2 linked regions of the Homo sapiens genome follow. The protein of the gene in region 1 interacts with the protein of each later gene in a pairwise test. Each region holds a gene or a part of one and is shown in the gene's direction. Other genes may lie near its edges. The genes, in order: CHD1L and XRCC1.

Evidence for each region.
Region 2: the proteins of CHD1L (region 1) and XRCC1 come close enough for resonance energy transfer, tested with the Homo sapiens proteins (one study listed by BioGRID).

The regions. Positions count from the first base shown.
Region 1 is NC_000001.11:147,248,929-147,252,736, forward strand, and holds part of CHD1L (chromodomain-helicase-DNA-binding protein 1-like), read left to right. Parts: intron 1-3,694; coding exon 3,695-3,807; intron 3,808-3,808. UniProt on the Homo sapiens protein: ATP-dependent chromatin remodeler that mediates chromatin-remodeling following DNA damage.
Region 2 is NC_000019.10:43,551,287-43,555,094, reverse strand, and holds part of XRCC1 (DNA repair protein XRCC1), read left to right. Parts: intron 1-290; coding exon 291-449; intron 450-1,411; coding exon 1,412-1,486; intron 1,487-1,582; coding exon 1,583-1,694; intron 1,695-2,003; coding exon 2,004-2,113; intron 2,114-2,186; coding exon 2,187-2,298; intron 2,299-2,819; coding exon 2,820-3,078; intron 3,079-3,407; coding exon 3,408-3,524; intron 3,525-3,808. UniProt on the Homo sapiens protein: Scaffold protein involved in DNA single-strand break repair by mediating the assembly of DNA break repair protein complexes. Negatively regulates ADP-ribosyltransferase activity of PARP1 during base-excision repair in order to prevent excessive PARP1 activity.

The DNA.
Region 1 (3,808 bases):
TCAGACACTGTTATAATCTTTGCTTCAGCGGTCAAACATAATTTTAAAAACTCAAGAAAAGGAAAACCTATTGTATTTACACGTTTTTGAATGCTGCATTCTCACCTTGATGTTCCAAGGTTCCATCTTTTATCATTTCCTTTTTTTCCAAGGGCTTCCTTTAGCCATTCTTTGAGGGTAGGTTTGTTGATGATAAATTCTCTTTGTTTTCCTTCATCTGAGAATTTCCTCTTCATTCCTGAATACCATTTTTCTTGATTACAGGAGTCTGGATTGACAGTTCTTTTCTTTCGATATTTGAAACATGTTGTGGCATTTCTTTCTGGCCTTTAAGATTTCTGACAAGAAATCTGCTTGCATTTGAATAGTTTTTCCTCTTTAAGTAAGGTGTTGTTTGTTTTTTTTCTGGCTGCATTTAAGATATTTTCTTTGTCTTTTGTTTTCAGCATTTTAATAATTACATATCTTGGTGTGTATTTTTTTTTTTTTTTTTTTTGAGATAGAGTCTCTCTCTGTTGCCAGGCTGGAGCGCAGTGGCGCTATCTCAGCTCACTGCAACCTCCGCCTCCTGGGTTCAAGCAATTTTCGTGCCTCAGCCTCCCGAGTAGCTGGGACTACAGGCACCCGCCACCACGCCCAGCTAATTTTTGTATTTTTAGTAGAGATGGGGTTTCACCATGTTGGCCAGGATGGTCTCAATCTCTTGACCTCGTGATCCGCCTGCCTCGGCCTCCCAAAGTGCTGGGATTACAGGCGTGAGCCACCGCGCCCGGCAATGTTTTGTTATGTTTGCGGTTTACTCAGTTTCTTGAAACTGTAGCTCTTTAGCCAGATTTGGGAAGTTTTCAGCTATTATTTATTTAAGTACTTTTTCAGCCCTATCCTCCTTCACCTGTTTTTATTGGACAACATTGAACAAATGTTAGATCTTTTGTGGTAGTCCTGAAGGTCCCGGAGGGTCATTTGTTTTCAGTCTGCTTTCTCTCTCTTCTGATTGTAATCTCTCTATAACTTCTATTCTGTAGAGTTCACTGATTCTTTCCTCACTTCCTTCCATTCTGCTGTTGATCCCATCAACAGCATCAGTAGCCTTTTATTTTGGTTATATTATTTTTCAGTTTTTAAAATTTCCCTTTGGTCTTTATATCTTTTATTTCTTTGCTGAAATTTCTGTTTCTTACCTGAGGTTTCCTGTTTTTTTCAGTTGTTCAAGTGCATTCATAACTACTTGTTGAAGCATTTTATCATTACTGCTTTAAGGTCTTTGTCAGATAATTCTACCGTCTGTGTCATCTGGGTGTTGGCACCTATTGATTATCTTTTTTCGTTCAGTTTGAAATCTTCCCAGTTCTTGATATAATGAATGATTTTTATAAGAATTGGAGCCAGGCATTTTTTTTAAATCATGTTTAAACCTCCTGTTTGACTGTCTTTGTCTGATGCTGCTCTGGCAGGGGAAGAGGGTCTGCTGCCTTGTTAGTGCCAGGTGGGGATAGAAGTCCAGGCTCCCCCTTCAGCCTCTGTCCACATCTGGGGATTGGGAAGGGGCTCCTCCATCCTGCTGGGTGAGGGTGGGAGTTGTGGCTCCCTCCTGAGTCTCTACTGATCCTGCAGGGGAAAGCTAAGGGGTAGGGCCTCGTTATTGGTTGGTGGGGATAAAAATCCCAGCTCCCTACTTGGCCTTCTCTTATACCATCCTGGCTGGGGTGCTGGGGCACTCGTTGTAGCTGTAGGTAGAAGTCTATGCTTTCCACTTAGCCTTTGCTGGTGGGACCACAGGTTTATTCCTGTGGTGTTTACTAGAATAGAGCAGTTATTATATAAAAGTTTCCTGTCTTGCTAGGCTGCCATTTTCTAGCTGGAGCAGGCTTGTGAGGGGTGGGGGTGGTATGGTTTGGCTGTGTCCCCAACCACATCTCACCCTGAATTGTAATAATCTCCACGTGTCAAGGGTGGTGCCAGGTGGAGATAATTGAATCATGGGGTCAGTTCCCCCATATTATTCTCATGGTAGTGAATAAATCTCACAAGATCTGATGGTTTTATAAATGGGAGTTCCCTGCACAAGCTCTCTTGCCTGCTGCCATGTAAGATGTGACTTTGCCCCTCATTTGCCTTCCACCATGATTGTGAGGCCTCTCCATCCATGTGGAATTGTGAGTCAATTAAACCTCTTTCCTTTATAAATTACCCAATCTCAGGTATTATTAGCAGCATGAGAAGAGACTAATATTGGGAGGTGTTCTTATTTGTTTTGGTTTTGGTCTACATCAGTTGGTGTTTCCAGTTGGCTGATTTCTTGAACTGTCAGACTGGGATATATAAAGCAAAAATAAATTCCAGGGAACTTACTACCCTGCCTTCCGCAGGCCCAAGGTCCCTAGCCAGTCTGCTTCTTCACTACACCTTTCAGAGTTTTATGCTTGTTTTCTGTAGCATGTCTAGGGTTTTTATTTGTACTTAGCAAGAGGAATAAGGGAAAGTAAGTATACTCCCATCAGAAACAGAAATCTCTGAATTTTCTGATTATAAAATGGGGATAATACCTACTCCATAGAATCATTATAAGCATTAAATGAGATACTGTAATTTATTTATTTATTTTTATTATTATTTTTTTGAGACAGTCTCGCTCTGTTGCCAAGGCTGTAGTGCAGTGGCGCGATCTCGGCTTACTACAACCTCCGCCTCCCGGGTTCAAGCAATTCCCCCTGCCTCAGCCTCCCAAGTAGCTAGGATTACAGGTGCCCGCCACTACACCCAGCTAATTTTTGTATTATTTATTAGAGACAGGTTTTCACCATGTTGGCCAGGCTGGTCTTGATCTTCTGACCTCAGGTGATCTGCCTGCCTCAGCCTCCCAAAGTGCTGGGATTACAGGCGTGAGATACTGTAATTTATGTAAAGTGTTTACTACTACTCTGGTATTTGTAAGTGCCTAAGAAAAATAACTTATTTTTTAAATTTTGTACAATTATGTATTTTGAAGATTTTTTTAAAGGTATAAGTTAAACCAGATAGTTATGTTTTTGCTAATAGTTCTTATATAAAGTATGTTTAAGGTCTTTCACCTTCCCAAGATATGGCTATTCTTTGAAATTGGATTTTTTTCACCAAGGGAAAGAGAAAAGAGAGTAAGTTCCGTATTAATTTCACACGTTTTCTGCCATCCCTGTACACAGTTAAATACCCTTTGTGAAACATCATTTCCATTCTTAAAAACAGCGCTTCTGTGTTGAAGCATTATTCAGTGTAGTCCTAAGTTTTTTCCTTTAGCATTGATGGCATATTTAAATGGGTGCAATTAAACAAGCAGACACATGTACAATCCATGTGTTGTTGCTCTTTGTTAAGTTGCATCAGTAATGCCTCATTTCCCAGAATGGACACTGGTGTGAGTCTCAGGCAGTATAGAGGCCAGATCCCAAGTTGACTTTCTCATTTATCAAGTGAATCAGGTAACAATGACAGGCTACTTTGGGGCTTTGAATATAAAGGTGAATAAGTCTGCTCAAAAAGTAGTTTGGAAGTCAGCAGATGTTTAGATATCCATAACTCCTCAGCAAAAGATACGTCCAGTGAGGTTTAGGGTTATGTGAATTTAGGCTGTGTTCCTCATTCAAACTCTTAGAACATTGCCTCTGCATGTACTGAAATGTCTGCTCTTCGGATTTGCTGTATTTTTTGTTTCTAGGGATTCACCTACGCTCTTACCAGCTGGAGGGAGTAAACTGGCTCGCCCAGCGCTTCCATTGTCAGAATGGCTGTATCCTGGGAGATGAGATGGGCCTGGGGAAGACCTGCCAGG
Region 2 (3,808 bases), on another chromosome or scaffold:
TTCCTTAGGACATGTAGCCCGCTGTATTGCCAGATATGGAAGACTCCATGGGAGAATTTAGATAAGGGTCGCTCACATCTGGAGGATAAAGAGATCCCTCTGGGGCCTGTGTCAGGGCAGGACTGACTCAAGGCCTAGAAACAAAGGGTCTGGAGACATCTAGGCCCAAGCTACATTCTAGTGACTCCCAGTCCCCTGTGTGGGCCCTGTGCCCTCTTCCCCAGCCCCTAGAAGCTCTCATCTAAGCCAACCTGCCCTGGTTCTCATGCACTGTGGCTTCTCCCACCCAGGTCCTTCTGGTCACCTCATCTTTCATGTCCCCTTCCGAGAGCCGCAGTGGCTCAAACCCCAACCGCGTTCGCATGTTTGGGCCTGACAAGCTGGTCCGGGCAGCCGCCGAGAAGCGCTGGGACCGGGTCAAAATTGTTTGCAGCCAGCCCTACAGCAAGGTACCTAGGGTGGGAGCCAGGGTGCAGAGTCCTTGGTCCTGGGCAAGGAGGGAAATAAGGGCCAATATTGAGTCCCATAGGGCTGGGAGGAGTAGACAGCTGGTGTCCCATGGGATTATGGGGAGGCTGGGTCCCTGCGTTCCCTGAAATGGGTTTGGGATCTTTCCTGTAATGAGAAGTTTCATCTCCCGGAGGAATCTAGGAAGGGTGAACTGCAGCATCTCAGAGGGGAATCGGAGGAGGGGAACTGACTTGTTAGAGAGGTGGCCTAGTAGAGTGGGCCTAGTAGTTAACATCAGGAGATCTGGCGTCTGATTACTGAGTTCACGTCCTGGCTATACCACTTTTTAGCTGTGTGATCTTGGGCAAGTGACTTACGCTCTCTGGGCCTCCATTGCCTGATCCTTACAGGGTTGCTGTAGGTTAAGGGATGCTAAAAGCTGTGGTAACAGTGAGACTGGAGTATGTGATGATGCCACACACTAAAGGTGTGCTTCTTGCCCAGGTAACTGTCCTGGGGAGTGTTTAGCCTGTCAGCTGGCTTCTCCTTATGAGGTCGTGCAGGGACCCAGACTTCTCCTATTTTCTGGCTCTGCATCCAGCTGGCAGAGGAGAGAGCCTGGAACACTTCTGTGTTCTGGAAGTGGCACGCAGCACTCCCTCCCATTCCACAGGCAGGAGTTTGTGCATAGGGCAGTGAATTCGCTGGGACACCTAGTAGACTCTGCCAATTGCCCAAAGAGCTAATGCGTGAAAAGGGCTTGGAGCCAGACTCAGAGTTAGGGCTCAGTCATAACAGCTTAATCCTATAATTGTCATCACCATCGCCAGGGCCCCTCCTTCAACATGGGTGTTCATGAGAGGGAAGGAGCCAGGAAGAGGTTTCCCTGAGTGAAAAGGGTCTTGGGCCCTGGCCTCTGTCCTTGGGCCAGACTCCCTGACTCCCACCCCTCCTTTCCCAGGACTCCCCCTTTGGCTTGAGTTTTGTACGGTTTCATAGCCCCCCAGACAAAGATGAGGCAGAGGCCCCGTCCCAGGTAAGCTGTACCTGTCACTCCCCATGGCCTTCTCCCTGCCTCTCCACCCCCACCTGCCAGCAGCCCACCTATAATACTGACCTTGCGGGACCTTAGAAGGTGACAGTGACCAAGCTTGGCCAGTTCCGTGTGAAGGAGGAGGATGAGAGCGCCAACTCTCTGAGGCCGGGGGCTCTCTTCTTCAGCCGGATCAACAAGACATCCCCAGGTGAGCTCGGACAACGTGGGTCCTGAGTGAGTAGGGTTGAGACCTAGACTCGTGGGTCTGAGGGTAGAGGGGGCTGGGGCTCAGATTCCTGGGTCTGAGGGAGGAGGGTAGTGGAGTCCTGGACTCCTGGGTCTCAGGGTGGAGGAAGGTGGGCCTGGCCTCTTGTGTCCTGAGGGTTGAGAGGTCTGGAGGCTGGGACTCCTGGATCACTGGTGGGTTTTGGCAACAATATTCTGTGTCCCATAGATAGGAGTGAAAGGGTCTTGGGGCTCAGCCCTCTCATCCTGGATCCACTTTCTCCCTTCATAGTCACAGCCAGCGACCCAGCAGGACCTAGCTATGCAGCTGCTACCCTCCAGGCTTCTAGTGCTGCCTCCTCAGCCTCTCCAGTCTCCAGGGCCATAGGCAGCACCTCCAAGGTGAAATCATCAGACTTTGGTGGGGTGGAGGAGGAGAGAAGCTGGAGGCCTCAATCCATCCCCATCCCCTCAGCCCCAGGAGTCTCCCAAAGGGAAGAGGAAGTTGGATTTGAACCAAGAAGAAAAGAAGACCCCCAGCAAACCACCAGCCCAGCTGTCGCCATCTGTTCCCAAGAGACCTAAATGTGAGCTAACTAGATCCCTTGTTTCCACAGGGGCCTGTGCTCCTGTGTCCTAGGGGAAGCGGGGCTGGAGCCTGCTGTCCTGAATCTGAGGGAGGAAGGGCTGGGGGCCTGGACCCCTGGGTCTGAGGGAGGAGGGGCTGGGGGCCTGGATTCCTGAATCCGAGGGAGGAGGGGCTGAGGGCCTAAACCCCTGGGTCTGAGGGAGGAGGGGCTGGGAGCCTGGACCCCTGGGTCTGAGAGAGGAGGGGTTGGGGGCCTGGATCCCTGGGTCTGAGGGAGGAGGGGCTGGGGGCCTGGACTCCTGGGCCTGAGGGAGGAGGGGCTGGGGGCCTGGACTCCTGGGTCTGAGGGAGGAGGGGCTGGGGGCCTGGACCCCTGGGTCTGAGGGGGGAGGGGCTGGGGCCTGGATTGCTGGGTCTGAGGGAGGAGGGTCTGGGGCCTGGACTGCTGGGTCTGAGGGAGGAGGGGCTGGGGGTTGACCCCCAGTGGTGCTAACCTAATCTACTCTTTGTCTTCTCCAGTGCCAGCTCCAACTCGTACCCCAGCCACAGCCCCAGTCCCTGCCCGAGCACAGGGGGCAGTGACAGGCAAACCCCGAGGAGAAGGCACCGAGCCCAGACGACCCCGAGCTGGCCCAGAGGAGCTGGGGAAGATCCTTCAGGGTGTGGTAGTGGTGCTGAGTGGCTTCCAGAACCCCTTCCGCTCCGAGCTGCGAGATAAGGCCCTAGAGCTTGGGGCCAAGTATCGGCCAGACTGGACCCGGGACAGCACGCACCTCATGTAGGCTTGCGCCCCCCTCCCTGCGCCGCTGCAGTTTCTCCCCCAGCTCCCTGTGTCTCCTCCACCTTGTGCTTTCTCTGTGTCCACTATGCTGCATGCTTTCTCTCTCTCTCACTTGCTTTCTTTCTCACTGCATTCTGTAGCCTTTGTCTTCTCTCTGATTTTTGCATCTCTCCCTTGGTCTCCAACCTCTTTTTGTTTCTCCCACCTCAATCTCATGATCTGTCTGTCTGTCTGTCTCTCTCTCTCTCTGTCTGTCTCCCCTGTCTCGTTCCCCTTTGCCCCTCAGATCACACCTAACTGGCATCTTCACTTCTGCCCCCCACCAGCTGTGCCTTTGCCAACACCCCCAAGTACAGCCAGGTCCTAGGCCTGGGAGGCCGCATCGTGCGTAAGGAGTGGGTGCTGGACTGTCACCGCATGCGTCGGCGGCTGCCCTCCCAGAGGTAAGGCCTCACACGCCAACCCTGCTCCTTATCCTGTGCTGGGCAATGCCAGGAATCTGGAGGGGAGTCAGACTGGGGCCTGCCAGCGGAGAACACAGGTGGTCCCAGCCCAGAGCCAGCAGACTACTGAGAGGAGCGGGGCAGGGGCTGGGGTACTCCAGATGAGGGAAGGAGGACCTGCCTGGGAGGTCACAGAGGGCTCTGTGAAGCCTGCTTATCAGAAAAGGCTGGAGGAGCAGTTTGTGCAAAAACTCAGGGGTGGGAGAACAAGTGTTAGGGTCCAT